2 separate regions of the Homo sapiens genome follow, and region 1 is linked to region 2. The links come from fine-mapping of genetic effects on gene expression. Tissue or cell type: whole blood. Region 2 holds a variant in brackets; the other region holds the start of a gene. All regions are shown on one strand. Distances are from middle to middle.

The links. PIP is the estimated chance that this variant, and not a neighbour inherited with it, causes the effect.
Region 1: BCAM starts here. The variant in region 2 is fine-mapped to the expression of BCAM in whole blood (INTERVAL, PIP 0.90).

Annotation. Positions count from the first base shown.
Region 1 is chr19:44,807,683-44,810,365 of GRCh38, forward strand. BCAM (basal cell adhesion molecule (Lutheran blood group)) reads left to right here and starts at 1,421. Exons shown (of 15, transcript NM_005581.5): 1 at 1,421-1,524. The coding sequence starts at 1,443.
Region 2 is chr19:44,557,774-44,560,456 of GRCh38, forward strand. No RefSeq gene overlaps it. Among named protein-coding and RNA genes, the nearest start is that of CEACAM20, 29 kb to the left of the region's middle. The variant TA/T (reference allele first, on the strand shown) is at 1,113.

The sequences.
Region 1 (2,683 bases), 250 kb after region 2:
AGTAATACCCTGTTTCTATTACCAAAAAAATACAAAAATTAGCTGGACATGGTAACACAAGCCTATAGTCCCAGCTACTTGGGAGGCTGAAGTGGAAGGATTGCTTGAGCCCAGGCGGTTGAGGTTTGAATGAGCTATGATTGCGCCCACTGCATTCCCGGCTGGGCAACAGAGCGAGACCCTGTCAAAAACAAAACAAACAAACAAAAAAAACGTTGGTCTCCTGTATGACCAATGGATAAAGTAACCTTGACCAGTCTAATAACTCCCAGGCTGACCTGTAATCCAAGCCTTCTCTGTATGTCTGAGCAGGCAAAGCCCAGCTCCAGGGCTACCTCAACCCCCAGGCTGATCAGAAGCTTGGGTAACCTCTCCCAGTGTGGCCAGCGACCCCCCACCCTCCCACGTTCTGACCACTGTCCTGGGCAACTAGTGACATCTAGTGGGGGATTTTGTCCCAGTCTGACCTGGCCTGTAGGGGCCTTGGGCAGTCGGACCTGTGACCCACGCTTCCTAGCAGTGGCTGGACTCCTCCCCCTTCCCGCAGGTGCCCTGGCCTCTTCCCCTGCCCTCCTCACCTGCTCTGGCCAGTCTGACTCCTCCCTTCCCCACAAGGTTGGGAGGGAATGAAGGAGAGAGCGGGAAGGAGGAAGGGAGGGTGGCATTCCTGGGATTCCCTGGATAGGGGGAAGAGTGGGAGGGCCTTCCATGGGTGAGCAAGCAGAGAGGGCACCCCGTACCCCACCCCCAGCCCCATCATCGAAGCGGCCTAGGAGGACCTGGATTTGAAGACCATTGAAAATAAGAGATTAAACCGGTTGATTCCAGGCTACTGGTCAGACGAGGAAAGCAGCCCAGAGCACTGACCACAGGGGAAAACATCTCCGGGCATACTGGGAGCAGCTGCTGGGGGCCACTGGTCAGGCTGCGGGGGTCACTGGTTGGACTGGGAGAGGCCAGTGCAGGCCACTCGGACGGCACGCTTGGGGCCATTAGTTACACTGGGAGAGGCCATCGCAGGCCACAGGTTGCAGTGGGGTCCTCTGGTTAAAATCGACGATGCCAGCCCAGGCTGCTGGTCACAGTGGGGACGAGTCCCCAAGGCCCCTGGTCAGAATAACGAGGAGAAGGTCCGCGATTGCCTGGTGAGATCCCAGCTCGGGTCACTGGCTACGCTGGTCGATCAGGCCCCCCGCTGCAGGCGCTGGTCAGTAAGCCCGGACAGCTCTAGGCTTGGGGGCGGACGAGCCCCGAGCCTGGCCCCGTGCACTGGGAGGTCCGCTCCGGGCAGTGGGAGGTCCTGGCCCCGCGCCCGGGCATCGGGGGACGAGGGGGGCCTGGAGGGCGGGGCGGGGCGGGGCTGCCGGGGGCGGGGCCTCTGGCTCCCAGCCCCGCAGCGGCCGAGCTGCAGCCCGGGCTCAGTCTCCGCCGCCGCCGTGAACATGGAGCCCCCGGACGCACCGGCCCAGGCGCGCGGGGCCCCGCGGCTGCTGTTGCTCGCAGTCCTGCTGGCGGCGCACCCAGGTATGGCTCGGGCTGAGGGCAAGGTGGGACTGGGGAGAGGCCCCTGGGGACCCCGGGAAAGCGAGGAGAAAGGGCTTTACCCTGACCCCAGGAAGCAAAATGTGGGGACCCCAAGGAGGAGGGATATGGGAGTGTTGGAAGGTACGCCTTCCAGTGAGAGAGATCTGGGGACAGCCAGGCAGGAGAGCTGGGGATACCCAGGCGGTGGATCAGAGACAACCAGAGAAGTCAGCCCCCTTCCCACTCAGCACCCTGGAATCTGGGTCCCACCTGCCTCCTCCCTCAGACCCTGGAATCTGGGCCCCCAGCCCCTCTTTCCTCAGACCCAGGAGTCCAGGCCTCCAGTGGCTAGAATAGCTTCCCCCAGGGCACAGAGGATCAAAACCCCAGGGCTCTCTCCCTCAAAGGTCCTCAAGTTTTGAGAGGTCCAGGGACCCCTTAGAGAAGCGAGGACCATGTGTCCCCACACCAGCGATCCACATGTATTTAGGAGTTTCCAGAGTCCAGTATAAAGAACCCGCCTCCCTCAGGAAAGGGCTGGAGCACCAGCCCCGGGCAGTGACAGTGGAACAAAGTGTTTCCAAGTGACAGGCCCCCTTCCTGGGGCCTCAGCTACATTTACACACCTGCATGAGGATAGAAGGAGAGGAGGCCGGGGGCTGGGGGGTGGGGGTGGGGGTGCTGGGGACAGAGGGACAGAGAGATGAGAGAGATTGGGGAAGAGAGAGGAACTCTCTGCCTCCACTTGTCTGCAGATCAGACCCAGCCTTAGGCACCAGCCTGGACCCCGTCACCCCTCCCTGGGGACAGGCTGGGGCCAGAGGTGAGCGCTTGGGAATCCAGGCCCCTGGCACACTCATGGTCAACAGTGGGTCCCCAGGGGTAGGGCTGGGCCAGATTGAGCAGAGAAGGGAAGGGAGTTTCTAAGAAGCACTGAGAGCTGATGCCAGGATGCCAGCCCAGAGGGTGAGGGAGGGTGGTGGTTTTTCTACAATAACTACTCCACCAGGCCCCAGCCTCCTCTTCCCTCTGATCCCAGGAGTCCAGGTGCCCAGCTTCCCAAGATCCTGGGCCTCAACCTTATCCTTTTGCAAGATGACTCGACTTATCCCGTTTGCTGTTGTATCAAACTGAGGGGGGCCAAGAGGCGGCTGGGGGC
Region 2 (2,683 bases):
GTGAAACCCGTCTCTACTAAAAATAAAAAAATCAGTCAGGCATGGTGGTGTGTGCCTGTAATCCCAGCTACTCAGTAGGCTGAGGCAAGAAAATTGCTTGAACCCGGGAGGCGGAGGTTGTAGTGAGCAGAGATCCTGCCACTGCACTCCAGCCTGAGCGACAGAGCAAGACTCTATCTCAAAAAAAAAAAAGGAAGTGAGACATAAGTATTGTATTGTATCATGATAAAGCAATTATTTGGCATTACACCTTAATGAATTTTATCCAGTCAATTTGCCTTTGTAGACACAGAGTGATTCATGTAATATGATATGTAGCATAATCAAGTTTAATCTCTGTAATAATGGTTGTTTATCTGTAGGCTATAGTTGTAAAAGAAGAATAAATAAATAAAGCAATCTATCAATCTTGATCAAACAATGTAGCCCACAGTTGATTCAGATGTTACAATAATGTAGTTGGTACAACTCACTGGGCAGCATATACCATGAGCACTAATGAAAAATAAAAATCATGGCAAGGCGCGATGGCTCATGCCTGTAATCCCAGCACATTGAGAGGCAGAGGTGGGCGGATCACCTGAGGTCAGGAGTTCGAGACCAAGCTGGCCAACATGGCGAAATCCCATCTCTACTAAAAAATACAAAAATTAGCCAGGCACAGTGGCTCATGCCTGTAATCCCAGCTACAGGGGAGGCTGAGGCAGAAGAGTCGCTTGAACCCAGGAGGCAAAGGCTGCAGTGAGCCGAGATCATGCCACTGCACTCCAGCCTGGGCAGTAGATTGAGACTCTGTCTCAAAAAAAAAAATGAAAAATGAAAAATGAAAAGCAACTGCATGAAAGTCAATTCAGTTTATGCCTAGCCTTCATTAAAGACCAACAAGAAAAAATAACAAAAAAAAACAAAAAATAAATGTTTCAGTGAAAATCTCATTTGGGCTCTCATCTACAGGACAGAGTGTAGATGGAAAATACATGTTTGATGTAATAACTGATCTTGTGATATACCTTTATGATTGTAAATAGTTGATATATTAAGAAATAATAGTAAAATAAATGTTATTTTAAGCCTCCAAATTTGTGATAATTTTGTTAGGCAGCAATAAATAA[TA/T]AAAAAAAAAACTAATACACCCAAACAGAATAAACCCAAATGAATCTATGCCAGGGCATATCATAATCAAACTGTTGAAAGCTAAAGATGAATTTAAAATCTTGAAAGCAGTGAAAGACAAATGATACCTTACCCATAGGAAGAAAACAATTTCAATGAAAGTAGATTTCTCATCAGAAACTATGAAAGCCAGAAGAAAGAAGCATAACATTTTATAAGTTCTAAAGAACTGTCAACCCAGGATTCTATAACCAGCGAATGAAAAAGATGTACATTTATATGTATACATATAAAATATGTATATATGTATATAAATGTATATACATTTATAGGTATACATATAAAATATGTATATATGTATATAAATGTATATACATTTATAGGTATACATATAAAATATGTATATATGTATATAAATGTATATACATTTATAGGTATACATATAAAATATGTATATATGTATATAAATGTATATACAATTATATGTATATATTATGTATATAACCATTCAAGAATGAGAGAGATGTACATTTTAAAATAATTAAAAGAGGCCGGGTGGGGTGACTCACTCCTATAATCCCAGCACTTTGAGAGGCTGAGGCGGACAGATCACTTGCGGTCAGGAGTTCGAGACCAGCCTGGCCAACATGGCAAAACCCCATCTCTACTAAAAACACAAAAATTAGGCAGGCTTGGAGGCTGAGGCAGGAGAATTGCCTGAACCCAGGAGGCGGAAGTGCAGTGAGCCAAGATTGCGCCACTGCACTCCAGCCTGGGTAACAGAGCAAGACTCCATCTCAAAAAATAAATAAAATAAAATAAAATAACTAAAAGAGTTATTGAATTGTAATTGCATTTGGATTGGAAATTGGATCTAATTGTAAATTGGATCCAAGAGTAACTGGATTGTTTGTAATACAAATGATAAATGCTTAAGGGAATGAGCACCCCGTTCTCTATGATGTGATTATTCCACATTGCATGCCTGTATCGAAACATCTCATGTACCCCATAAATATATACACCTACTATGTACCCATAAAAATTAAAATAAACAAATTTTTAAAAATAAAATAAAAAAGAATTCAGGAAAAACCAACACATTCTCAGATGAAGGAAAACTAAGAGAATTTGTTGCCAGCAGACCTACCCTAAAAGAATAGAGAAAGGGAGTTATTAAAACAGAAAAGAATGGTAAAAGAAGGGAATCTGGAACATCAGGAGAAAAGAAAGATAGAGAAGGAAGAAAAGAAAAGGAGAAAGAGGGAGGGAGGAGAGGACAGAAAAAGGGGAGAGGGGAGAGGAAGGGGTTTTCTTTTTCTTCTTGAGTTTTCTTTCCCTTTTTTTCCAGAGGATCTTCACACCTCTAACTGAATTTTCTAAATTACATTTAATAGTTAAAGTAAAAATTGTAACACTGTCTGATGTGATTCTCAATGTATGTAAAGAAAATATTAAGACAATAATATTATAAATGATTATAAATGGGAGAAGATAATGGTATTAAAGGGAGGTAAGGTTTTTTTTGTTTTTTTTTTTTTTTAACTGTGTCTTGTTCTGTTGCCCAGGC